Homo sapiens: one gene and its partners. The protein of the gene in region 2 purifies or fractionates together with the protein of the main gene of each other region. This does not show direct contact. Each region holds a gene or a part of one and is shown on either strand. Other genes may lie near its edges.

What was found.
Region 1: the proteins of GCFC2 (region 2) and UBR2 purify together in Homo sapiens (affinity purification with mass spectrometry; 4 studies listed by BioGRID and IntAct, with this or other methods). This does not show direct contact.
Region 3: the proteins of GCFC2 (region 2) and DDX23 purify together in Homo sapiens (affinity purification with mass spectrometry; 3 studies listed by BioGRID and IntAct, with this or other methods). This does not show direct contact.
Region 4: the proteins of GCFC2 (region 2) and PRPF19 purify together in Homo sapiens (affinity purification with mass spectrometry; 2 studies listed by BioGRID and IntAct, with this or other methods). This does not show direct contact.

The regions. Positions count from the first base shown.
Region 1 is NC_000006.12:42,686,012-42,693,038, reverse strand, and holds part of UBR2 (E3 ubiquitin-protein ligase UBR2), read right to left. Parts: intron 4,824-7,027; coding exon 4,653-4,823; intron 4,053-4,652; coding exon of another isoform or gene 4,031-4,052; exon of another isoform or gene 3,490-4,030; intron 3,471-3,489; coding exon 3,369-3,470; intron 2,008-3,368; coding exon 1,866-2,007; 3' UTR 1-1,865. UniProt on the Homo sapiens protein: E3 ubiquitin-protein ligase which is a component of the N-end rule pathway.
Region 2 is NC_000002.12:75,700,901-75,707,927, forward strand, and holds part of GCFC2 (intron Large complex component GCFC2), read right to left. Parts: intron 5,752-7,027; coding exon 5,623-5,751; intron 1,548-5,622; coding exon of another isoform or gene 1,524-1,547; coding exon 1,299-1,523; coding exon of another isoform or gene 1,270-1,298; exon of another isoform or gene 896-1,269; intron 388-895; coding exon 290-387; intron 1-289.
Region 3 is NC_000012.12:48,849,149-48,856,518, reverse strand, and holds the start of DDX23 (probable ATP-dependent RNA helicase DDX23), read left to right. Parts: upstream 1-4,355; 5' UTR 4,356-4,435; exon of another isoform or gene 4,436-4,469; intron 4,470-4,704; exon of another isoform or gene 4,705-4,798; intron 4,799-7,370. UniProt on the Homo sapiens protein: Involved in pre-mRNA splicing and its phosphorylated form (by SRPK2) is required for spliceosomal B complex formation.
Region 4 is NC_000011.10:60,890,020-60,896,585, forward strand, and holds the end of PRPF19 (pre-mRNA-processing factor 19), read right to left. Parts: intron 1,245-6,566; coding exon 1,147-1,244; 3' UTR 528-1,146; downstream 1-527. UniProt on the Homo sapiens protein: Ubiquitin-protein ligase which is a core component of several complexes mainly involved pre-mRNA splicing and DNA repair. Required for pre-mRNA splicing as component of the spliceosome.

The DNA of each region.
Region 1 (7,027 bases), on a different chromosome or scaffold from region 2:
ATATGAAAAAAAGCCAAAAGAAGCTTACCTTAAAAGCTAAAGAAACTGGATGTGACAGAGGCCAAAATAAACATGAATTATGCCACCTACAGCCCAAACAACCAGATCTTATGAATGAAGGCCAGAAAAAGGGGGAGAGAGGTGGACTCAAATGTGAATTTTCTTTCTATTGGTCCTCCTCTCAGCTGGGTGAGTCAGTCCCACGCAAGAATGGCGACGGTCATCCTCCTGTCAAGAGGGGGCGGTTCTTTCACACACTACCTTGGAGAGGAATGTGGCTTCTACATCCTCACTTCTTTTAGCTTCAGTTCCAGATTTCTGACCTTCTTCCTGTGATACTGTGGAGCATGCCTAGTTGACTGGTAGCTGAGTGGAACAAAACTTGTAGATGTAATTCAAAGAAAACTGATTGAAAGGGTCAGTTGCATTGGTTAAAAAAATCCAAGAGCCTCTTATTACTCATCTGTTCCTTAGCCCCACCTTAGACAGGCTCAGAATTTATTCCTCTACTAAGTCTTCAGTCACTCTCTGCATGTATTCAAGCTCTCAGCAGTCATACATCAAACAATAGTAGTTGTGTGGTACATAATAATTATAAGCTATTTTGTAAGTGGCTCTTGTTCTAGGAAGGCACCTCAGTAAGAACAATGATCAAAAAGAATAAAAAGCCTGGGTGCCAGACCATCCCAGGAATGCACTAAGTGAGCCAGCAAGGAAGCAGCAGCTTGTCTGTTCCAGGAAATGCTGGCTGGGTGGGAGTGGGTTCTCACCTTCTTCAGTGTTTGGCTTTAGATGATATACTCTGCCAATTTAGCCTTAGAAATAACAAGAGAATATCACTGTCTGAAACATTAGGGTATTCTAAAAGAATACAGATAAGAAAATTAGGATACTCTTTTAGAATACCTATTATTTTAAACTTAAGCTTGGTGAACATCTGAAAAAAAGCCAAAAGAAGCTTACCTTAAAAGCTCAAGAAACTGGATGTGACAGAGGCCAAAATAAATATCACTTATGCCAACCACAGCCCAAACAACCAGATCTTATGAAGGAAGGCCTCTCATCTAGATATTAGGATATCTAAAAGAATATCCTAAATTTTTAATCCATATTCTTTTAGAATATCCTAATTTTTCTTCCTAATTCTAAAAGAATATCCTAATTTTTTAGACCATCCTAAGTTTTTGGAAAGCCCTCTAAGTGAGTTTTCTCAAAGCCAAAAGTCTTGCCATAAAAAAAAAAAGAAAAAAAAAAAACCTCTAACAGCCCTGAAAAACCAGCCAGCACACCAGGAATCCACCTTCTCCCCACGGGCTTCTTCTGCATGTGTGTCCCCCAACTCTCTCATAGTCAATGGAGAGAAGGGAACACTGCCTTCAAAATCAACCACTTTGCTCCTAGGAGTAGGGTCCTGTCAGCAGAGGGGACACCAACCCAGTCCCAGTGTTGGGCCACTCAGTGGAACCAGGAAGTATGACCCAACAGACCACAGAGACTTTGTTCCCTGCCTCCGTTGAGTCAGCTTCGGACCCACGGTTCACTATCATCAATAACGTGAAATATCACATAATGGCTGGGACTATGCAGTCAGACCCCCACAAAGGGGCTGGGATCCAATCTAGGAAGAGAAGCTCCTTGCTCGATCTTAAAACCCAAGACATTATATTTGAGGGGCACAGCAAACAGTGCAAGAAAATCTGCTGATGGAAGATGATTTTCATCAGTCCTCAGAACCAGAAACTATAAAACTGGGAAGGAAAGTTTAAATAAAGAATTTATTTCCAAATTCAGCAGAACTTCTTTCTTTCTTAAAAAGCCAACTGGGTTAAAAAAATCCAAGTTTGTGTTTTTTGGTGGTGCAATAATTATAAATGTTGCCAGTCAATGCCAACCAGTGTCTGATTGGCTTCCTGTGCATGTCCAATTTCCTCTGTGACACTGTGTTGGTGCCAGAGCTTCTGAATCTTCTTGAATCGCTCTTTGCATAAATGTAAAGGATTTCCCCGTCTAGAAAGAGAAGACACATGTCACTCAGAATGTGTTCTGTTTATTCCTCTATTATAACCCAACCCTTCCTGATTTAGGCAAGGTTACAAGTTATTGGTTTTAGACTCCCTGCAACATTTCTGTCTGGCAGGTGACTGTGGCTATTAACAAAAACATCAGCTCTGACCCTTTGCCAAGAGCAGGTAAAAGGGAATAAGTGCTGAAATGAGGAAGGAAAGGTACACAAACCAGACTTACCCAGAGTGAGGTGAGGGAATAGAGGTTGCGGGGGATAAGGAGGGTCTGGGTTGAGAGGCTAAAACTACCAATTCATTGCCCATTTTGTTGGTAACGTGTAAAAAGGGAAGAGGGCAGAGGAGAACACAAAAGAAGAATTATAGGAGTAAAAATATTCCTCACAGATTTTACTAAGAGTGCAAAGAAAAAAGAAAAGAAAAGAAAAGAAAAACATTCCTCAGATGCAATCTTTCAGCCACAGTCTCAGTGAAGCAATCAAATGTGAGTAACTTCCAGGTCTAATTTAAACACAAGTGCAAGCTTTGGTGGGTTCCTGCCTGGGACCAGTGCCCTGAGCCAGGCACCTCTGCTCCTGTTTCTGAGCACAGCCATCCTCTCACTCACTAATCAGACTCTCCTCCTCCTAACAGCCCACGCTGAGAACAGTGGGAAGCACCAGCACTGGGTGGCATATGGGCATAGCCTCGCAGTCCAGCGCCTGGGGCAGCTCATCTACTTACCTTGCTTGGGTTTCTAGGCCTTTAACATCTGCTACTTAAGGCTGGACAGGCATATCTATGGCGGTTAAAACTTATACCTCCTTTAGACAAAAGAGATGGTCTGAAAGAAGTTCTTTAATAGTGCTTGGGGGAATTGTTAGCTTACAATATACTAAAGCTACCAGAGTAGAAGTAACTTAGCCTCAAATATTGTTATATTGTTCTTTATGTTTTAAATCTTTGTCCCCCAGATTTTAATGTAATAAGCACATTTGTTAGCAATTAAGATTTTCTCAAACACTGGGCTTCCTCTATACAAGGCCATACAAGTCAGAGTGGGCCATCCCTGGAGTGCTCTGAGCTGGGATGCTATATGGCAATTCAAACAGTTCTTTGGAGTGATAAATGGAATAAAGTTGCACTCTGTCCTATTCTCTTCCCTTACCTATCCTGATGTTCCTCATGGCATTCTGAAGGCTGGGAAAAGAACACCAAACCAGGCTGACAGGGCACCCTCCTTGGAAGACTCCACAGATAACACAGCCACCTCTTCCAGAACCACCTCAGCCCTCCACCCTCAGGACGTCACCACATACGGAAGGGCGCTGCAGGCCCTGAGTTAGCTAACTCAGGATGGGTTCTTACCTGAGTCCCTGGTCGGTCTCCCCATAGTCATCAAGGTAAGGAGGAGAATAAAAACAGCCTTTGGTTTTGCCAGCTAAAAATAGCACCTGACATTCCCGTACTCTGTAGAGAGATCAGTCATACGTTACACATTTACACATTAGTAACCAACATTTGTATTCAGTTCCAAATAGAATGAAGTCTTATAGTACTGATATTTAAACCACTATTAGGAGGAAGTTATCCATTAAAAAATTGTGCACAAACTAGGAAATAGGTTGAATCGAGTCAAATTTGTGTCCCCTGATCCCTTTGAGACATTTGCCTTTTTCTGGCATTAATAGTACAGCACAATTAAACAGACATTTATTGAGGACCTAATACGTATAAGAAATTATCAAGGTACTGGGGGGATGACTAAGCTATGGATACAACCTATGCTCCAGAGGAGCCCACACTCATGTCATGCCTCTGCTTCAAACCCTGAAATGGCTTACACCTTGCCCAGAGATGTCACCAGCACACAGCAGGCCCCTGGATTCTCTCACCTGTGCACAACACTCCAGTGACACGCGCCTCCTTGCCTTGAGCAGACAGGCACATTTCTACCCCAGGAACTGTGCAGAATGTTCTGAGTAGAATGTTCTCCCACTTCTTTAGGTCTTTACTCAGAAGTCATGTTCTTAGGAAGCCTTCCCTGATCTACTAAAATTAAATCTCAAATTTAGCTCCATAGCTGCCATTTCATATTCCCCTTCCCTGCTTTATTTTTTCTCCTTAGCCTATATCACTATCTAAATTCTTGTCAGTCTTGCTTGTCCTCTCTCTCATACAAAACAAGCTCCATCCATAAGGGCAGAGATCTTTGCACTGTGGACTACTGCATCCTCAATGCCTGGTACATAGTAGTCACTAATCACAAGCTGGCATGTAGAGTTGTGATAATATGTATAAGTGGAGGTAAAATCCAAAAGCCATGAGGACATAACAGAAAGAGTAATTCTGACTGGATTTGTTCAGAAAATCAGAGAAGTTTCACATTAGTGGGAGACATGGAGAAAGTAGAACAGAACTGTCACCTATGGTTGAGGGAAGAGGAGTGGGAATGGTAACAATAAAAGAACCAACACAGAGTTGGCATGGACCAGATGTGAGATGTGAGGCGACAAGGAGCTCCACGTTTCTGGAATGAATCACACGGAACAGTAGTCTCAAAATTCCTGGCAATATAGTAGTTTCCTGTGACACCCTAACAGTCAGATACTGAGGCAGATCCAAAGCTAAAAAGCCCCTGCAGGTCCTTACCTCAGGAAGATGCCCACTCCAGAGCCACAGGAGTAGGTGTGAGCTGTGCAGGCTCCTACATCCTCCCCTTCCAGTTCAGTCTGGCAGCAGTAACTCTGGGAGCACAGCAGAGATCCGCACACAAGGCACAGAGTTGGGGCTCTGCTCTTATCACCACCTGATTTCGGGCACCTCCAAGGGATAAAAAACCCACAAGTCATTGATCTAAAGAGTGGCTAAAGAGCTAGTGATGAAAAAACCAGCCCAGAAAAGAATTCTGCAATATCAAGTAAAGCCAAAGAAGTGTATATCCTACAGTCTATGCAAGTTTATTCCTAGAATCTGGAATAGGAAACATCTTGCACATATATACAAAGACCATGTACTGGAAACACTCAAAAGAATCAGTAACTGGAGAAAAAAAAATAAATAAAATCATCAATAGGAGAAAAAGATAAACGGTACCACTGCCATATAATAAAATACTATGGAGCAATGAAAAATCAATAAAGTTATAAACGTCAATACAGATAAATCTTAGAAACAATGCTGAATGAATGCAAAATTGGCTGGGTGCAGTGGCTCACGCCTGTAATCCCAGCACTTTGGGAGGCAAAGGTGGGTGGATCAACTGAGGTCAGGAGTTTGAGACCAGCCTGACCAATATGGTGAAACCCCGTCTCTACTAAAAATACAAAAATTAGCCAGGCATGGTGGTGTGCACCTGTAGTCCCAGCTACTTTGGAGGCTGAGACTGGAGAATCACTTGAACCTGGGAGGCGGAGGTTGCTGTGAGCCAAGATCACACCACTGCACTCCAGCCTGGGCAACAGAGTGAGACCCTGTCTCAATAAATAAATAAATAAATAAATAAATAAAATAAAATACAACATACAGCTCTCCCTCTCCCTCTCTTCTCTCCCTCTCCCCTTTGCACAGTCTCCCTCTGATGCCGAGCCGAGGCTGGACTGTACTGCCGCCATCTTGGCTCACTGCAACCTCCCTGCCTGATTCTCCTGTCTCAGCCTGCCCAGTGCCTGGGATTGCAGGCGCGCGCCGCCACGCCTGACTGGTTTTTGTATTTTTTGGTGGAGACGGGGTTTCGCCGTGTTGGCCGGGCTGGTCTCCAGCTCCTGACGGCGAGTGATCTGCCAGCCTCGGCCTCCCGAGGTGCCAGGATTGCAGAGGGAGTCTTGCTCACTCAGTGCTCAATGTTGCCCAGGCTGGAGTGCAGTGGCGCGATCTCGGCTCGCTACAACCTCCACCTCCCAGCCGCCTGCCTTGGCCTCCCAAAGTGCGGAGATTGCAGCCTCTGCCCGGCCGCCACCCCGTCTAGGAAGTGACGAGCGTCTCTGCCCGGCCGCCCAGTCTGAGAAGTGAGGAGCCCCTCTTCCTGGCCGTCATCCCGTCTAGGAAGTGAGGAGCGTCTCTGCCCGGCCGCCCATCGTCTGGGATGTGGGGAGCGCCTCTGCCCCGCCGCCCCGTCTGGGATGTGAGGAGCGCCTCTGCCCGGCCGCGACCCTGTCTGGGAGGTGAGGAGTGTCTCCGACCGGCTGCCCCGTCTGAGAAGTGAGGAGCCCCTCCGCCCGGCAGCCGCCCCGTCTGGGAAGTGAGGAGCGTCTCCGCCCAGCAGCCGCCCAGTCCGGGAGGTGGGGGGCAGCCCCTACCCGGCCAGCTGCCCCGTCCGGGAGGTGGGGGGCAGCTCCCACCCGGCCAGCCGCCCCGTCCGGGAGGTGGGGGGCGCCTCTGCCCGGCTGCCCCGTCTGGGAAGTGAGGAGCCTCTCTACCTGGCCGCCACCCCATCTGGGAGGTGCAACCAACAGCTCATTGACAACAGGCCGTGATGACGATGGCGGTTTTGTCGAATAGAAAAGGGGGAAATGTGGGGAAAAGAAAGAGAGATCAGATTGTTACTGTGTCTGTGTAGAAAGAAGTAGACATAGGAGACTCCATTTTGTTCTGTACTAAGAAAAATTCTTCTGCCTTGGGATGCTGTTAATCTATAACCTTACCCCCAACCCCGTGCTCTCTGAAACATGTGCTGTGTCCACTAAGGGTTAAATGGATTAAGGGCGGTGCAAGATGTGCTTTGTTAAACAGATGCTTGAAGGCAGCATGCTCGTTAAGAGTCATCACCACTCCCTAATCTCAAGTACCCAGGGACACAAACACTGCGGAAGGCCGCAGGGACCTCTGCCTAGGAAAACCAGAGACCTTTGTTCACATCTTTATCTGCTGACCTTCCCTCCACTATTGTCCTATGACCCTGCCAAATCCCCCCCTCCGAGAAACACCCAAGAATGATCAATAAATACTAATTAAAAAAAAAACATACAAAATAACAATACATGCTGCTCAAGAATAGAAACTTATATAGTTAATGTATAGGAATGGAA
Region 2 (7,027 bases):
GAGACATGGAAAAAGCCACGTGAAGACAGAGGCAGAGAGAGGAGTTATGTAGTCACAAGCCAAGAAACACCTGGAATGACCAGAAGTTGCAAAAGGCAAGGAAGAATTACCGCTCCCCACAACCCCCCAGGGCCTTTGGAAGAAGCAAGGTGCTGCCAATACCTTGACTTCAGATTTTGGCCTCCACGCTGTGAGAGAATAAATGTGTGTTCTTTTGAGTCACCAAGTTTGTGGTAATTTGTTATAGCAGCCACAGGAATCTAATACACATGGGATAAAAAATGATTACCTCTATGATTTTAACTGCTTTCCTCATTTGCTGTTGTTCCCAAGTATCTTGCTTTTCATCTTCCTGACTTTCTTCACTTGTTTCTTCATTTCTGCTTACTAGCGGAAAAAAAGCTCACATGTAAACGTTTAGTATTTTTCCATTTTAATTGCAGCAAGCCAACATTTTTTGAGATTATACAAAGGCTTAGCACCACTTGACGTGTTATTTATTCTTCATAATAATTCTGGGAAGAAGGCACTATTACTGCCCTCATTTCACAAATGAGGAAATGCAAATATTGGGAGGTTAAGTAACTGTCTTAGGACTATGTTGAAGCTGGAAGCTGGATCCTGGGATCTGACTCCATAACCTGCACTCCTATCACTAAACTGTCCCACTCAAAACACTATAGCCCTATATTGTAAAAAACTGAGAAAGAATGAAATGTTTGGTTTTTCTTATCAAAGATCTCTCAATTACTACCTGAGAATCCAAACACTTAAAAATAAATTGTAAGGAACTAAGTCCTTTTCTGAAAAAAATATTATTTAAAGTTACCAAAACCTTGGTCAAATGCATATATCATAAATGAGAAATATGAAAACAGTCCTTTAAGGCTTAGTATTATTGGTAGAGGAAATTTTTTATTACAGCAGGGAAGATTTTAATACATGACATCTAAAATCTCTATAGATGCTTCCATGTTAAAAAAAATATATTTATACAGGTAAAAACGATCGTTTTCAATGCTTTGAAAGTAAGATACTGCACATTTTTTTTAACCTGTCCAAAAACATCAAGGTGGGAGGTCAGGCATTAATAAACATTATTACACATACTCCTTGATAATAACATTTTGATACAGATACATCTTTTAGAGGTCACAATATCATGGACCAAATCGATGTTAAAAACCATTATCAACACTATAAAATGTGAGCCAGCATATTACATTTTTTATGGAGATTCTCTCATATTATATTCTAATAAAAAATATCCTAATCTTCATATATTGGTAAATCCATACTTGATTCCTCAGCCATCCTTTGTCTAAGTGTTTGAGGTCTTAGAGTAAATGGTATTCTCTTTTCATGGTCATCAGGCTCACTCTCAGGGTCATCTTCGCTCTCTCTCTTCATACCAGAGATGGAGGAGGTATGTTGTACATCCAAAGAAATATAGTCATCTTGGGCCCTGGCCAATTCACGTTTTCTGCGGGCTGCCTGAATAAAAGCTGCATCTGGGATCTTAACTGAAGGAAACAAAGACGAGGACACTAAAAACCAAAGACCAATGTAAGTAAATATTCCTCACATTTAAGAAAAAGAAAAAAGCACCATTTTCCTAAATTATTTGCTATTTTGATATATGAATGTGACTTTAATAAATGGCTCAAAATCTGTATCAGCAAAGGAAGAAAACTTAATAGAGATTAAATACAACTTAGAAAAATCAAACAAATCTAGAAGTATCAGAAAATATACTGAAACTGCTTCATTTTATCTTTTAACTCTCTTACTCATCAGGTACTGCTCACTTTGTTGAGGGGTCGCTATTTCTCATTTCTGGAAGCTCTGAGATTGTCAGCGCAGGGATGTGGAGAGGGCTGAGTGTGGTGTTCCCCAATCAGTGAGAGCTACAGAAGTTAGAAGGATCAATGACAGACCAGCCTGACTTACCAAGTAAGAGAGATACTACACTATGATGTCCTCCTTCCTCCTTCCCTCCTACCCACACTTACAAGAAATCACAAACATACTACAAACAGTAACAGAGCAAAGCCAAATTAGCCTCTGCGGTTCTGTAGTGAGCCCCACGTGAATAAACATGAGACATTAAGAAGTGTAAAGAAAATAATCAGGCTCATTTACCAGGTGAAAAATTTTAAATGACAACAACTCTTAAGAGAGTCTTATTTTTTTTCTTTATTTTGTACAGCATAAATATCATTAGCATAAACTCTTCCAATTTAAAACGAGTTTCTTCATGCATGATCTAAGCTGAAATTTATCTTCATTCTGGAAAAAACGGTTTCTTAAGAAAAATACTACATTAAAGAAACAGCGAGAGAAATTTTCACCATTTTAAGCACTTCAAACTACTAAAAAGATGTCAAGCTACTGAGGCTGAAGTGAAATTTTCTAAACTTTCCCACAAGTTGACCCAAATTCTTTGAGAAATAAACAGAAAAATGCCATGTACTTGGAGATGCACAAAAGCTCCCATGTTTGAAACAAACAAAAAAAGAGAAAGATTTTAGAAATCACAGACCAATATGCTTGACATCAGCCCTAGGGAAAATTAAAAGTCCTTGAGTGAATCATGAAGCAATAAAGAAATCACTAGAAGTCAATAAATATTCATCAAGAACAAGTAATAGAAAATGAAGTGATTTGCTTTTTTATAGATTAGTAATTATTTATAGACTACTGTCAGGGACATGATGAAGGTCAGGTGTCTCTTCCTCCTCCCAAAGCATTTAAGATTCAAAACCATCACAGCAGGTTATAGTAGCAATTCTCGACCCTGGCTACACATCAGAGTCACCTGAGAAGCTTGACATACCCAGGCCTCTATACCAGTGATTCAGATGTTGATCTGAGGCAGAGCTGAGCAGAAGTATGTTTTTATAGCTCCCTAGAGGATTTTAATGTGCAGGCAGGATTAAGATAAGACATTTAGGTTCAAATACTCAAGTGTATGAATGTGGACACAGAAATACTTATTTTGGAAGTGATTTTCTTGCAGGTGACTCGGTAGGGTTTAATTAGTAAGTCACAAGCAATGGGACACACTAGTAAGATATTAGTGCTACATAAAGGTAACTGCTCAAGTAAAAATAAAGAAGTAAAAAACCAAGGAAGAGAAGAGTATTGCGTTTGTCCTGTTTCTGCATATTCAATACCTCGTTCAAGGGTTCTCACACAGCAGATGCTGGGCAGACATAGGAGGAATCAATAATGTCAGCATATTGTTCAATAATAAATACATCATGTTTTTACAAATTTATAACTTATGAATAATTCTTCACATATATCATCCTATCTGATATGCAATCATCTAGGGCTGAGAGGTAAATTATCATCTTCTATTAGTAACAAGTAATCTCTGCTAGAGGGACTATTTTGAGGCAGTTATTCATCGGAACACAAATAAATGCTCTTCTTCCACATGCCAGCCCTTAAAATTAACACATTCCTCCATCTTTTCTTCGCCAGCCAATAAGTCCTTCGAACTTTCAGGTGTTCCTCACAGGACAAGTTTTCAATTTTTAATCAGCGTTTCTCAATGTGCATAGGGGATGGGCAATTCACTGCGCTGAACTGTTCTGCACTCCTGTTAAGACATTTATCATCCCTTGCCTCTAGGGCACTATGTGCCAGCAACAACTCAACTACTATAATCATTTAAATAATCCCACACATTTTCAAACGCTGCCCTCTCTCCTAAGGTGGGGGCAGTGCTGCCAACACTTTACAACCACTGCCTTATCCTGTTTAATCCACCATCTTTTTTTGTTTGTTTGGTTTTGAGATGGAGTCTTGCTCTGTTGCCCAGGCTGGAGTGCACTGGCATGATCTCTGCTCACTGCAACCTCTGCCTCCCAGGTTCAAGCAATTCTTTTGCCTCAGTCCCCTGAATTACAGGTGCATGCCACCATGCCTGGCTAATTTTTACATTTTTAGTAAAGCCAGGGTTTCACCATTTTGGCCAGGTTGGTCTCAAACTCCTGACCTCAGGTGATCCATCCACCTCGGCCTCCCAAACTGCAGACATGAGCCATGGCACCTAGTCTAATCCGCCATCTTTTATAGTAGCATTGTTTGGTACAGTAGCCACTAGCCCTATGTGAGTATTCAAATATAACTAAAAATTCAATTTCTCAGTCTCGCTATAGCCACATTTCAAGAGCTCAACAGCCACTTGTGACTAGTGGCTACCATATGGACAGTGAAGATAGAAAATTTTTCCAAACCACAGAAAATTTTACTGAATAGCACTGTATCTAGAATCCAGACAAGGCTTCAACTGTTTACTAGATTTCAGTTCTTAATATTGGCTTAATCGCTTAGTATTTCTGTACCTTGTGGACATGGAGAAGAAACAAAATTACAAGGTTACAGAGCTACTGGTTGTTGTTATTTAATAGGCTAATAAAGAAGCACTTATGGCCGGGCGTGGTGGCTCACGTCTGTAATCCCAGCACTTTGAGAGTCCGAGGTGGGCAGATCAAGAGGTCAGGAGATCGAGACCATCTTGGCTAACACGGTGAAACCCCATCTCTACTAAAAATACAAAAAATTAGCCAGGCGTGGTGGCCTATAGTCCTAGCTACTCAAGAGGCTAAGGCAGGAGAATGACGTGAACCTGGGAGGCGGAGCTTGCAGTGAACCCAGATTGCGCCACTGCACTCCAGCCTGGGCGACAGAGTGAGACTCCATCTCAAAAAAAAAAAAAAAAAAAAAGAAGCACAGAAGCACTTATTACTATATTACAAGCGTCATAAAATATATTTTAATAATTTTATTTCAATATAATTTGTTTCCTCTACAAAGCTATGTATTTTACTTTATTTTCTCAGAAGGGATCTTAGGCTTCACTAGACTGAAAAAGGAGTCCACGGCACAAAACAAGTTATAAACCTCTGTAAGACGCCAGATAAATATTTTTCACTTTGCGGGCCATAGGGTCTTTGTGGCAACTTCTCAACTCTGCTGCTGCAGTGCAAAAGCACCCACAAATATTAAGTAACTGAAAGACTGTGATTGTGTTTTAATAAAACTTTGTTTACAAAAACAGGTGGTGGGCCAGATTTGCCAACCCCTGAACTAGACTGATCTTTCTAAGACACAAAAACATTCATGTCATCTGTATAAAATTTTCAGTGGTTCCCTAAGCCCTGTATAATCTGACTCCAACTTGTCCTTCCTGTTTTCTTTTCCTTAAACTCGCAACCAAATACTTTCAGCCAGAGCTATTTTTAGCTTCCTGCACATATTACATACCTTCCCTAGAGTTTCAGATATGCTACATCCTATACCTGAAACATCCTCCCTGACAAATTCTTACCATCCTTCAAGTATCAATGTCAATCACCCAGTATAGCACAGTGATTAAGAAGAATACAGGCTCCAGAACAAACTGGGTTTGAATCCTAGCCCTGCTACTTATAAGCTGTCTGACCTGTGCATGTTAAAATGTAATAAAAATGAGCAATTTTGGCACTCTGACAATCATCATTAATGACCTACTTGCCCCATGTCACTAGAGTTTGTTATGTCATTAATAACTATATCAAAAACACTATATTAAAAATAAAATTCTTAACCAAAATCATACAAATTACTAACCTGTTGATGAAAGTTCTTTTTCTCCAAGAGAGCTAGAACTGTCAGAAGACAAACCCTGATCATCCTTACTTTCTGAGGAGTGATGTATTTTATCCTCTTCATCTGTGGACACATCAAGGGTTCTGGATTCTAACAGGACATTTTAAAAATACAACAAAAAAGAGTCAAAATAATGGAATTATTAATTGAAATTCTGAACAACACATGGCATATGTATAATACGGTGTTTTAATCCTAGTCCATATATTAAAGTAGACATATTGATCTTCCTCCAACTTTCTTTCTTAAGCAACTGAATGATCTACTAAGTGTACAAAGACCCTATTTGTATTATCTAGGCATCTAATAATATATTTCCAAAAGTATGCAATGAGAAAAGGGAAGGAGGCATTAGAGAAAAAAAAAGCGACAAAAAATGAAGTAATATTTAGAATAGTAATGATTGTGAATAAGTAGAAAAGAAAAATATTTAATGTATACTATGTACTAGGCACACTGAAACCTGTTTTACATGACTTATTTAATACCTGTAATTCTATAAAGTAAATGCAATTTCTGATGAGTTCACTAAGGATTGAGAGGATAAAGAACACCAACTCGGGCAGTGGAGAAGCAGGGCTGTCAACCTAATCCCAGGCAACTTCAGAACTTAGGCTCTCTTTATAGTATGCCATATTTCAACGGCTGGTGGCGAGAAATATTGTAACGAGCACTTTGGTCAATATTAAACCATGGGTCCATCTTTTCAATGCATGATTTGGGAAGGTAAATAGTCTGTTAAATTCAATTAATCTGTTAAACAAAGATAACACCAAGATAAAACCCACAGGGGTGTTGTGAAAATTGAATGAACAAAATAAAGGAATTCTTGACATTATTGACAAGAAAGGATTTCTTAATCCACAATAAATTTGCAATCTTTATGAGTAACCTTAAAACATAAGATTACATACTACTCATTAATTTTAATTTTCTACCTTAGTTAGAAGACCTACATACAGTTCAAAAAAGGCTGGAGTAAAATCAAAATTTAAAACACTAAAAAAAATATAGCTGCAGCTCACATCTTTCTTAGATATTGTCATTTATGACAACCCATACCTGTTTCCAAAGTGGATTAACACCAAAGCAGTGGGTCTTAAAGCATGGTTTATCAATCCCTGGAGGTCCTTGAGACTCTTTCAGAGAGTCTGTGAAATTAAAACTACTTTCATCACAATAATAACATGTTATTTGTTCTTTTTACCATGTTGATATTTATATAATGAAGTAAAGGCAGTGATGGGTAAAACTGCTAGGCTCTTGGCATGAATGAATCAATTTGTAGTAGCAGTTATGGTATTTTTCCTTACCTCACATGGCAGAAAAAAGCCAGTTGCTCTTCATGAACTAATTAAAAAATTGT
Region 3 (7,370 bases), on a different chromosome or scaffold from region 2:
TTGGATGAAATCATCAGTAGAGGATCCAAGCTGCTGAGATTCCACCCCACATAGAAGGTGGACAGACTAAGCCAAAGCTGGGGGAGGCTCCTGGGATTCTGGTCTCCTCTGAGTTCAAGGAGAGGTGACATTTGCCTTCATGACCTTCCAATTCCGATGCCTACTGATGGCAGCTCAGGGGCCTTAACTCTTAACTTCCTTTCTCAGTGACTTATAGCTCTTGTTTTCCAAGTGCCATAGTGTAGTGCTAGTGCCAGAAATAAAGTTAGCATGTACTAGGCCAGGCGCGGTGGCTCAAGCCTGTAATCCCAGAACTTTGGGAGGCTGAGGCAGGTGGATCACAAGGTCGGGAGATCGAGACCATCCTGGCTAACACGGTGAAACCCCATCTCTACTAAAATACAAAAATTAGCCGGGCATGGTGGCACGTGCCTGTAATCCCAACTACTCGGGAGGCTGAGGCAGGAGAATCGCTTAAACCCGGGAGGCAGAGGTTGCAGTGAGCCAAGATTGCGCCACTGCACTCCAACCTGGGCAAAAGAGGGAGACTCCATCTCTAAATAAATAAATAAATAAATAAAGTTAGCATGTACTTAATGAGTGTTCAGCACTGTGCACTGTGTTGAGGGCTTTACATGATCACATTTAGACTCATAAATGATAAGAGCTAACATTTGTTAAATGTTTACTATGGGTCGGGGCACTTACGAGATTTTTCTTTTTTTTTTTTTGAGACAGGGTCTCACTCTGTCGCCCACGCTGGAGTACAGTGGCATGACCACTGCTCACTGCAACCTCACCCTCCTGGTTCACCGTCCTGATCACCCTCCTGACCCTCCTACCTCAGCCTCCTGGGTAGCTAGGACTACAGGAGTACCACAGTAGTAGTCTATTTTTTGTGGAGATGGGGTTTCACCATGTTGCCCAGGCTGGTCTTGAACTTCTGGGCTCAAGTGATCCTCCTGCCTCGGCCTTCCAAAGTGCTGGGATTACAGGCATAAACCATGGTGCCCGGCCCCACTTACGAGTTCTTTCTATGTTATTTATTCCTGTGATAACCCTATGAGCCTATGAGGTGCTATTTTTTTTTTTTTAGACGGAGTTTCACTCTGGCTGGAGTGCAATGGCACGATCTTGGCTCACCGCAACCTCTGCCTCCTGGGTTCAAGTGATTCTCCTGCCTCAGCCTCCCAAGGGACTACAGGCATGTGCTACCATGCCCGGCTAATTCTGTTTTTGTTTGTTTGTTTGTTTGTTTTTTTAGTAGAGACGAGGTTTCTCCATGTTGGTCAGGCTGGTTTCGAACTCCCGACCTCAGGTGATCCACCCACCTTGGCCTCCCAAAGTGCTGGGATTACAGGTGTCAGCCACGGCGCCCCGCCGCTATCTACTTCATTTTACAGAAAAGAAGACCGAGGTTCAGAGAGATTAGGTAACGTGCACAAGGTCACACAGCTAGGAAGTGGTTGAACATGGATACAAATCCAGGCAATCTGGCTTCACATCATGCACTCTAACTTGCTCTGCTGTCCTGTCCTGTGAGGGAAGTGGTATTATTATCTCTGTTTTGTAATGAGGAAAGAGAAAAGCCAGAGATGCCATATAATTTGCACAAGATCACAGTACTAGTAAGCAATTGAGCCAAGATTCAAACCAGAACTCACTGTTCACCAAAATCCCATGGACCCCTTACTGGTAGGCATGTTGTACCTAAATAGGTATCTCCAGTTATGGTTCTTACTAGAACACCATCCCTCTGTCTCTGTCTCCAAAGATGATGGTTTAGGTGTGGTGACTGGTGCCTGTAGTTCTAGCACTTTGGGAGGACGAGCCGGGCGGATTGCTTGAGGCCAGGAGTTTGAGACCAAACTGGACAACATTGCAAGACCCTGTCTCTACAGAAAGTAAAACGATTAGCCAGGCATGATGGGGTGCACCTGTGGTCCCAGCTACTTGGGAGGCTGAGGCAGGAGGATCACTTGAGCCCAGGTCAGGGCTGCAGTGAGCTGTTTGTGCCACTCCACTTCAACCTGGGCAACAAAGTGAAACCCGGTCTCAAAAATAAATAAGTAAATAAGCCAGGTGTGGAGTCTCACGCCTGTAATCCCAGCACTTTGGGAGGCCGAGGCAGGTGGATCACGAGGTCAGGAGATCGAGACCATCCTGGCCAACATGATGAAACCCCGTTCCTACTGAAAATACAAAAATTAGCTGGGTGTGGTGGCATGTGCCTGTAATCCCAGCTACTTGGGAGGTTGAAGCAGGAGAATCGCTTGAACCAGGGAGGTGGAGATTGCAGTGAGCCGAGATTGCACCACTGCACTCCAGCTTGGCGACAGAGCGAGACTCCATCTCAAAAATAAATAAATAAATAAAATAAAATAAAAATACAAACAAATAAGAAAACAAAGATTCATGTTTGTGAGAGAACTAGTGGGGCAAGACAAATAACAAGTATCCTTGAAGCCCAATGTCTTACATGTGTCATGAGATGTGCGCACAAGTACTAGAGGAACTCTGCCACTATGAACTGGGACAAGCTTTATCACCCTCCAGGAGCTCAATTTAAAGAGAGTTGAGATGGCAGCCTGAAAATGGGGAAAGGTAATGGACTCTGAAGTTAAATGAACCTGAATTTTGGCTCCATTCTTTTCTTTTCTTTTTTCTTTCTTTCTTTTTTTTTTTTTTCCAGTCAGGGTTTTGCTCTGTCACCCAGGCTGTAGTGCAGTGGCACGAGCATGGCTCACTGCGACCTCGACCTCCTGGGCTCAAGCAGTCCTCCTGTCTTGGCCTCCCAAAGTGCTGAGATACAAGCATGAGCCACCTCACCTGGCCCATTCTTTTAACTATGTGGCCTTTGAAGGCATAATTACTCTTTCTGGGCCACAATCTCCTTACCAGTAAAATGGAGATAGCACTCATCTCATACTGCTATGAGAACTAAGTAAAACAAATAAGGTAGGTTAAGTGTCCAGCCCAGAGCTGAGCACTTAGAAGATTCTCAATAAAAAGTGGCTGCAGTTTTTGAAGATTCTGGCCTACCATGGTTGGTCTGATTCTTAGTTTAATCTGTGAATCTGTGAGTCGAGCGCCCTCTCGTGCTTTTGTGGTGAATTACACCTAACAGATCTCAGAGCTCTCTTCTTTCCCTTGCGTTCTCTCTGGAGTAGAAGCTGGGAGGTGAAAGGCTGCAGGTTCTAAGAGAAGTGTGTGTCTCCGAGGGTTACTTTGGGCCATTGTACGTGATGCTCAGGGCTTTAGGATTACTTGGGTCTATCCTGAGGCTCTGCTTGAGAGCTTGGGCATATTCAGAGAGAAAAGGCAGACCTACAGCCATGTGGAATTGAAGCAACAAACCTGCTGCTGGCAAAATGGGAAGGGAGGTCCGAGATACTTCTGGTTATCTAAACCGTTTCCGCAACTGCAATGTTTTGTTTTGTTTTGAGGGAAAGAGTTATGAACCCATAAGACCAAAGAGAAACACAAAGTGAACTTACGATTTGAGGTTAAAACAACAACAACAACATCAACAACAACAACAACAGCAACAACAAAACTCAGTGGAAGACTGAAGTAGGGGAATCTGGGGGAAGAAAGAAGCAAAAATACCAAGATAGCTCAACAATTGGTCACATTCCAAAGGGCAAGAAATTGAGGAAACCAGGGTTCCATCTGGAATGTTGAGAAAACAGGTGCTAGAGCCCAGGAGATACCATCCTTCCGGGAGGACTTTAGAGCCCATTGTGTGGGCTCATTTGGAGCTGTAACAATAACTGGGGGTTGTTATGGCATTCACCCGGCTGCAGGGGCCAAGGTTGCTAAAACGTCCTCCTAAGCCTGGGATAGTTCCACACACAATGGAGAACTGCATCACCCTCCTTGTGAACCTACTCCGGTAACCTGATCTTTAGTTTGTCCAACTGTAAAATGGGGCTAGCCCCATTCTCACAGAATTATTATAAAAACCGCTTTTCCACGAATGGTATTTATTGTTACTGCGGTTGTTAGCTATAATTACGTACTACAGATATCTCAGGAAGCCCTTAAATTCCTCCACTGTAAGCCACGGGCAAGGACAGTCATAGACCGTAGTTTCTAGGAAGACCAGCCGATTCCAAGAAGGGTGCTCGGCGGGAGAACCTAATGCCGAAAGCCTATTGGCGAAAAACTCTTCCTTCCCGGACGCTAACGTCTGGCAAACCACATTGCCCGGCAGACCCCGCAGCCTGGGGCCGGCGCTCAAGTCATGCATTCTGGGATTGGTAGTTTCCAGGCCTCAGTGTCGGCCTGTGCCGCCCAGCTCCAGGAACTCGCCTTCCCAGCTTGCCTCGCGGCCGGGGGGGTGGGGGGTGTTCATCTCCGCGACCAGGAAACGGGAAAGATGGCGACGGCTCCGCGACGTTGAGGCCGCGTTGGGCGGTTCAGACTCAGGGTGGTGAGTCCCGGGCGGTGGAGGCGGTTCCCACGAGCTTACAGAAAGGGCTAGAGTCAGGGCACGGCGGTGGCCCCTGCCTCCTGGATGAGGCGGGAAAGAACGCCTCAGAGAAGGGGCATGAACCCGGGAAGCTCGGGCGGGCTGGAGTGAAGGGGCGCGGGCCCCAGGGGTAGTGTTGGCTCCTCCGGGCACAGGCCACGTCCCTGCACGATATTTTCCTCCCAGGACTCTGCCTATGGGCACAGCGCCTCTGATACCCCCAGTCTGACCTTATTCTTTCATGCTTAAAGTAGCCTTTGGTGCAGCCAAACTGGAACTCTGGCTTTTCTCTCGCAGTCAGTCCATGTTTTCCCGCCTCTGCGCCGGCCGTATTATTTCTTTTGCCGGGAATGACTTCTTTTCCGCGTCCTTAATTACATATCTTAAAATTCTACTTATACTTAAAAGCTCAAGCGTCACTTCCTCTTCCAAGCCTTCCACATCACCTTTTACAAGTGAAAGGAAACGCCTTTGAACACCTGTATTACTACATCTGAGCCTTGATACTCTTCTTGGTATGTGTCTCATACCCCCTATTGTTCTTTTTTTTCTTTTCTTTTCTTTTTTTTTTTGAGACGGAGTCTCGCTCTGTCGCCTAGGCTGGAGTGCAATGGCACGATCTTGGTTCTCTGCAACCTCCGCCTCCCGGGTTCAAGCGATTCTCCTGTCTCAGCCTCCCGAGTAGCTGTGATTACAGGCGCACGCCGCCACGCCCGGCTAATTTTTTGTATTTTTAGTAGAGACGGGGTTTCACCGTGTTCCCCAGGCTGGTCTCGAACTCCTGAGCTCAGGCAATCCACCTGTCTCGGCCTCTTAAAGTGTTAGGATTACATGCGTGAGCCACCGCGTCCGACCTCATAACCCTGTTGTTCTAAACACTTCCTGTGAACAGAATTTATTTTTGTAACTCACATAGCACCTAGCACTGTGCCTTGCGTACAGTAGATGCTTGTTAAATACGTCATTGAGTGAAAAAAAAGAATGTGCCCCTGCCCTGCAAGAACTGAGGACCTGAAGATCTGGAGGTTTGAGAGGAAGGCTGCTGGGAAGCATGGCCAGAGTCAGCCTGGTTATTTGGCCCTTGTGATAATAGAACCTGTAATAAAAGTTGCCTGTATTTACTGTCTTCTTCTCATTTTTCATTCTCTTCCAAACTCATTCCACTCAGGCTTCCATTCCCGCAATGCAACTGAAACAGCTCTTGTCAAGGTCACCAATAATCTCCATTTTTCCAAATTCAGTGGTTACTTCCCTGTCCCTTATTCCCTCTCCACTTCGGTGGTACTTGACACAGTTGACCCCTCCCTCCTTGAAACATGTTTTTGGCTTCTTCGTTGCCATGCTTTTCTTTGTCTTTTCTCACTGGCTGCTAGTTCTTTTCAGTCTTTTTCTCTGGTTCATCCCGTGGCTAACTCCTGTTAAAGTGTTCCAGAGCTCAATTCTGGAGCTTCTTCTCTATTTTTTTTCTTTCACTATGCTGCCTACTTAGGTAATATCATTTAGTGTCCCATGGCTTTAAAAGCTATCTGTGTATTGGTGACTCAAGTTTTTGTCTACAGACCCTCTCCCCTAAGTTCAGATTTGCATTTCTCTTTGCCTTCTGGGAATCTCCACAGATATTCTCACACTCAACCTGGCCAAAATGAAACGTTTGATTTCCTCTTAAATCTGTTCGTTCCCTAGTCTTCTCCAGTTTGTTTGCTATGGCACCACAAACTATTAGGTTGCTGAAACTATAAATTTAGGAGCTATCTTTGTGTCTGCTCTTTCTGCTTCTTCCTTAGTAAGTCCTGTTAGCTTTGCCTCCAAAATATACTCTGACGCTGCCTACTTCTTTCCATCTCCATCGCCACGTTCCTAGAACAAGCCACTGCCATCTCTTGCCTAGAGTACCATAATAGCACTCTCAGTGGTTGTGTTTTCACTCTGTCTCTCTGCTATATATTTTCTTGCAAGTCACCAAAGTATTAGATTGCTTCCTGTTTAAAGCTCTTCTAAGATCCCCATTGCAGTTAAAATCCAAGTTAACTCTACTCTGACCTGTAACACATTTTCATTATCTGACTCCTGCCCAGCTCACTGAACTCATCCTGAATCAGTATTCCTCCTGCATTAGTGCTTCCCAGGGTCAAGAAGTCTTTCCACCTCAGCCTGGGCTCAGGTGATCCTCCCCAGGCAGGAGCGAAGGGGCATGGGCCCCATAGGTAGTATTGGCTCCTGGGGGCACAAGCCGTGTTCCTGGACGATATTTTCCTCCCAGGCCTCTGCCTATGAGCTCTTGAGCACTTTTGAGCTCAGGCATTCCACCCACCCTAGCCTCCCAAAGTGCTAGGATTACAAGTGTGAACCACCACACCTGGCTGATTTTTTTTTTTTTTTCTCTCGAGACAGAGGGAGTCTTGCTCTGTCACCCAGGCTAGTGCAGTGGCACTATCTCGGCTCACAACAACCCGCACCTCCTGGGTTCAAGCAGTTCTGCCTCAGCCTTCCGAGTATCTGGGATTACAGATGCCTGACATCACGCCTGGCTAATTTTTGTATTTTTAGTAGAGACGGGGTTTCACCCTGTTGGCCAGGCTGGTCTCGAACTCCTGACCTCATGATCTGCCTATCTCAGCCTCCCAAAGTGCTGGGATTACAGGCGTGAGCCACTGCTCCTGGCCTCCGGCTGATTTTTAACTGTTTATAAATGTAAAATTTTATTGTTCAAAATAGACGGGAAGTCTTGCTATATTACCCTGGCTGGTCTCGAACTCCTGGGCTTAAGTGATCCTCCCGCCTTGGCCTCCCAAGGTGCTGGTACTACAGGCATGAGCCACCAGGCCTGGCCAAACAAATATGTTTTTAACTGACAAACGTGTAGTTGGGCTCACACCTGTAATACCAGCACTTTGGG
Region 4 (6,566 bases), on a different chromosome or scaffold from region 2:
CCCCAGACTGTACACCATGGTTCCCCCGACTTTGCCACCATGACCTCCTTCCTGTTCCTCCATATATCTCGCTCAGTCCAGCCCTAGAACCTGCTCTCTGCCTGCCAACACTCCTCCCCTCTCAGGTCCCTCTCATTCCAGCTTCAGCTTCATCACCACCACTTCAGAGGCCTTTCCTGACCTGCAATCTAAAGCAGTCACGTGACCCTACAGGAATTCCCTATAAGGCACATTCATTATCAGATCTTTGTCCCGAAACCAGTCCTACCACAGCTTTTCAATCGCCAGAGTCAATAAAAAAATCTCCTTTTTGACTTATGCCAGCTGAGGACAGGCTAGAAAGCCTACAACTAAAGAACCCTGATGGAGATGCTCAGACCTCCCCACCAGCAAGATCCAGCTAATCTTCCCTGCAGGTCTCCCTCCCTTCCAGGCTTGTGTAGGAAACCAAGTCTACAAGGCAAGTGGCAGGACTAGTGACTTGAGGCCTTTAGACACAAGGTCAAGAACCGCAGGGACATGGCAAATTTCATCTGCAGATTTGTTTTTATTTCTGCTGTGCAATTAAAAAAAAAAAAAAAGGGTAAGAGCTGTGAAAGGAAAGGAAGATGGGCTTCCCGGAAGCCAGTGTCCCAGTGTGTGCTCCCTCCCCTTGACCTTCCCAGTCCCAGGTGCTCCTGGTGCAGACAGACACGGGGAGGTGGTTATGGTTATTGTTTTCTTTTTTTAATGAAACTAGATCACTGCTTACAAAACCCTGCACAAGCCCTCCTGCCCATCCCCTTCACAGTTCCCTTGGCTCAGCCTCTCCTGTCTCACAGGAACTGCAACAAAATGGGTGTGGAACAGCCACCACCACGTCCATTGAACGACAGGAAGGGAGAGGCCCTGGGCTCCGACCCTGGGCCTTAAGAGGGTGACAGTTCTTCCTTCCACATCCGTTCCCATGGGGCCTGGAGTTGCATGGATGAGGGTGGTCCATGCCACCATGGTTCTCAGGCCACCACTCAGACCAGAGTGAAATGATGTGAATGTCCCACCCCACAGAGCCCCCTCCCCCCATAGATTCCCCCCACCCCCCCCCCCAAACCCTAATTCTACCCCTCTACTGAGATGAGGCCCAGCTTCCATCAGAAGGGCCAGGGCCTACAGGCTGTAGAACTTGAGGCTTCTGTCCATGCCTGTTGAAGCGATGAACTTGGCGTGATGCCCGAAGGCCACCCCTGTGGTCAGGCCGCTATGCTCTGAGGAGAAAGATAAGAGGCAACTGTGAGAAGGCTTTTCCTCCTTTAGTCTGAACACTGATCCCTAATAACAGATTCCCAAACAACCAGGCCTTCTCTAATTAGTATTTATCACACCGCAGGCTCCTGTTTGTTTTCCCTAGGCTGACCTGCACACTACCCCCAGTGCCTCCCTCAGTGCCTGGCATTTTTCACTGGTGGGATGAATGAATAAAGCAATGCCAGCCCCCCCTTCTCACCTGAGCTTTCTGGGCAACTGCAGTTCGGCTAGGTTTAGTTGAAAAACCTCAGAGCTCAGCTTGTTTATGCCTAGTGCTCACTACTTGCTCGTAAGTGGAACAGTCCATCAGCATTTTCTAGCTCATAGTGTTCCAACCCCAGGGCACTCAGGCCCCTAACACAGAGCAGGACCAGATAAGAGGCAGATGAGGCTGGGCAACATTCCTCATGGGACTCCAGAAATTCATGAACATCTGGCCAAATTCCTTCTAGATTTAGGATCACACCTGGAGTCAACCAACTCCCCATTAAAAAGCTCACGCTGTATTTTCAGCTACCTAACTCGGTTCTAAATCAAAACACCAGGTACAGTACAGGGTGAAAACCGGTGAGCCATATTGTTAGGATGGACACCTTTGTTATACAAACACACTGAGCAGGGCTCAGGAGAATACGGGGCAAGAAGAAATATCTTGTATCCTGCTCACAACCTGCTAATGAGGACGAGAATTTCATCAACACACACAGCAGTAGCTCCCATTCATGTAGCATCTTAAGTGAGCATCAGGCACCCTGTTACCAGCATATTAGCATGCCATCTCCACAACACCAGCTGTCACACCCTGCAAAGCTGTGCCAATATTCCCATTTTCTAGATGAAGGAGTTCAAGATCTGAAAGGGAAAGTCACGTACCCAGGGCCACATAACTGTTAGGTTAGAAACCCTGTTACCCATTCTCTCAGCATCTCATGCTTTTCTTCTCTAGCACTTATAATTGCAATTAAATGTGTACATGTGAAATTAATCTACATCTGCCTTACTAACCTGACTATAAATTACATCAGTGCCCAAATCGGGTCTGTTTTATTCACTGCTCTATCCCACCACAGACTAAGACCCAATGCTGAGTGAGAACAACTGCAAATCCTGACTACGTGCCAGACACCGTTCTGACCTATGTATTCACAGACGGTCCCCGATTTACCATGGTTCAACTTGCAATATTTTCAGCTTATGATGCACTTATCAGGATGTGGCTCCATCGTATATCAAGGAGCACCTGTATGTATTTTCATCTAAACCTCAACAACCCCACTGAGTCTATAGTTACCATTCCCACTTTTCTGAGAGGTTAAGTAATATTGGATCTCAGAAAACAATACCCCAAAGTATGGTGGTTTGGCACGCTGAGGGCTTTGAACCAAGGTCTCTCTGACCATGTCCTGCCCTCCTGTCTCTTGCCCCTCTTTCTCTAAGGGCAGGTCATCTGAAAGGAACATCATGAATCCCCTTCCTGGGAATCTCAACCAGGGAAAATGAACTGGTCTCACAAGAGAGAAGACTAGATGCCAGTCTTTGTCACAGACTGTCATGCATTATTTATCTAAGGTCTGCTCTGAGACAACTTTTATTACCTGAGAGACTCTGTAGTGCACTTCCTCCCCATCCCCCCACATAACTTGTGTCACCACCACCCCCTAGAAGCCTTAGGCCCCTACTCCCTTCTGCAGTTCAGGATGCCATAGAGTCATGTGTCACATAATGACATGTCAGCGACGGACCACACAAACACTGGTCCCATAAGATTACAGTGGAGCTGAAAAATTCCTATCACCAAGTGATGTCATAACCATCATCATGTCACAATGCAATGCATTATTCACGTTTGTGGGGATACAGGTATAAACAAATCTACTACACTGCCAGTTGTATAAAAGTATAATATAGCTAGGCGCGGTGGCTCACGCCTGTAATCCCAGCACTTTGGGAGGCCGAGGTGGGCAGATCACGAGGTCAGGAGTTTGAGATCAGCCTGGCCAACATAGTGAAACCTCATCTCTACTACAAATACAAGTACAAAAAAAAAAAAATTAGCCAGATGTGGTGGCACACGCCTGAAGTCCCAGCTACTCGGGAGGCTGAGGCAGGAGAATCACTTGAACCCAGGAGGCGGAGGTTGCAGTGAGCCAAGACCATGCCATTGCACTCCAGCCTGGGTGACAGAGCAAGACTCAATCTCAAAAAAAAAAAAAGTATAACATAATTAGGTACAGTACGTTACTGGTTTATGTACAGACATATCTCAGGGACATCGCTGGTTCAGCTCCAGGCTACCAATAAAGCAAATATTGCAATAAGGCAAGGCACACAAATTTTTTTGGTTTCTCACTACATATAAAAGTTATGTTGGCCAGGCATGGTGGTTCATGCCTGTAATCCCAGCACTTTGGGAGGCCGAGGCAGGTGGATCGCTTGAGTTCAGGAATTCAAGACCAGCCTGGCCAACATGGGGAAACCCCGTCTCTACTAAAAATACAAAAATTAGCCGGGTGTGATGGTGCCCACCTGTGCTAGAACCTGGGAGGTGGAGGTTGCATTGAGCCAAGATCGTGCCACTGCACTCCAGCCTAGGCGACAGAGCAAGACTCCATCTCAAAAAAAAATGTTATGTTTACACTATACTGTAGTCTATTAAGTGTGTAATAACATTATGTCTAGTAAACAATGTACATACCTTAATCAAAAATACTTTATTGCTAAAACATGCTAACAACCATCAGACACTTCAGTGAGTTGTCATCTTTTTCCAAGACCCACCAGCAGGGTCTTGCCTTGATGTCGATGGCTGCTAACTGACAAGGGTGGTGTTTGCTGAAGGCTGAAGTGGCTGTGACAATTTCTTAAAATAAGACAACAAAGAAGTTTGCCACATCATTTGATTCTTCCTTTGACAAAAGATTTCTCTGTGATGGATGCTGTTTGATAGCATTTTACCCACAGTAGAACTTTCAGAACTGGAATCAATCCTCTCAAATTCTGCACCTGCTTTATCAATTAAGTTTATGTAATATTCTAAATCCTTCATTATCATTTCAACAATGTTCACGGCATCTTCACCAGTAGAAGATTCCATCAAGAAACCACTTTCTTTGGTCATCCCTAAGAGCTCCTCATCCATTAAAGTTTTAACATGAGATTGCAGCAATTCAGTCCCATCTTTAGACTCCCCTTTGGATTCTAATTCTCTTACCATTTCCTCCACATCTGCAGTTACTCCCTCCATGGAAGTCCTCAATCCCTCAAAGTCATCCATGAGGGCTGAAGGGTTGGAATCAATTTCTTCCAAACTCCTCTTTATGTTCATAGTTTAACCTCCTCCCATGAATCACAAATGTTCTTAAGGGCGTGTAGAATGGTGAATCCTTTCCAGGTTTTCAATTTACTTTGTCCAGATCCATCAAAGGAACCACTATCCAGGGCAGCTATAGCTTTATAAAATGTATTTCTTAAGTAATAAGACTTGAAAGTCAAAATTACTCCTTGATCCATAAGCCGAAGATTGGATGTTGCAGGCATGAAACATCTCCATCTGAGCTTTAGGGTAATGAGGTGCACTGTAATATTTTGAAAGGAATCTATTTTTCTGAACAGTACCTCTTAATGGGGGGCTTAAAAAATATTCAGTAAACCATGCTGTAAACAGATGTGTTGTCATCCAGACTTTGTTGTTCTATTTACAGAGCACAGGCAGAGTAGATTTAGCCCCACCTTCTTAAGGGCCCTACAATTTTCAGAATGCTAAATGAGCTTTGGCTTCAATGTAAAATCACCAGCTGCATTAGTCCCTAACAAGGGAATCACTCTGATCTTTGCATCTTGGAAACCAGGCATTGACTTCTCTCTAGCTGTGCAAGTTCCAGATGTCACTTTCTTCCAATAGAAGGCTATTCCGTCTACATTGAAAATCTGTTGTTGAGTGTACCCACCGTCAATGATCTTAGCTAGGTCTTCCGGATAACTTGCTGCAGCTTCTACAACAGCATCTGCTGCTTCACCTTGTACTTTTCTGTTATGGAGATGGCTTCTTTCCTTAAACCTCATGAACCAACCTCTGCTAGCTTCAAACTTTTCTTTTGTAGCTTCCTCACCTGTCTCAGCCTTCACAGAATTCAAGAGTTAGGATCTTGGTCTGGATTATGGTTTGGCTTAAAAGAATGTTGTGGCTGGTTTGATATTCTATCCAGACCACTGAAACTTTCTCCATATCAGCAATAAGGATGTTCTGCTTTCTTATCATTTGTGCGTTCACTGGAGTAGCACTTTTAATTTCCTTCAAGAATTTTCCTTTGCTTTCATAACTTGACTAATATTTGGTGTTGAGGCCTAGCTTTTGGCCTATTTGGCTTTTCACATGCCTTCTTCACTAAGCTCAATCATTTCTAGCTTTGGATTTTAAGTAACAGACATGGGACACTTTCTTTCACTTGGACACCGAGAGGCCATAATACGGTTATTAACTGGCCTAGTTTCAATATTGTTGTGTCTAAGGAAATAGGGAAGTCTGAGAGGGAGAGAGATGGGGAACGGCTGGTGGGTGGAGTGGTCAGAACACACACAGCATTTCATTTATCAAATAAATTCAGTAACTTTTATGGGCACATTTCATGGTGCCCCCCCGCCCAACAATTACAATAGCAACATCAAAGATCACTAACGGACACAATAAATCATGAAGAAGTTTGAAATACTGTAAGAATTACCAAAATTTGACACACAGACACAAAGTGAACACATGTTGTTGGAAAAATGGTACTGACAGACTTGCTTGGGGCAAGGTTGCCAAAAACCTTCAATTTATAAAAAGCAAAGTATCCATAAAATACAATAAAGCTAAGTGCAATAAGACAAGGTATGCCTATACTATACTTTTTTTGGTATTAAATATACTCTTCCCACTTATAAAAAAAAGTTAACTGTAAAACAGCACCAAGCAGGCCCTTTCAGGAGGTATCCGAGAAGAAGGCATTATCATCATAGGAGATGACAGGTTTATGCATGTTGGTGCCCCCGAAGACCTTCCGGTGGGAAAAGATGTGGAGGTAGAAGACAGTGATGTTGGTGCTATGGTTAGGCTTTGTGCCGCCACCCAAATCTCATCTTGAATTGTAGTGCCCATAATCCCCACGTGTTGTGGGAGGGAGCCAGTGGGAAGTAACTGAATCATGGGGGTGGTTACCCCCATGCTGTTCTCATGATAGTGAGTTCTCACGAGATCTGATGGTTTTATGAGGGGCTTTAGCCCCTTTGCTCAGCATTTGTCT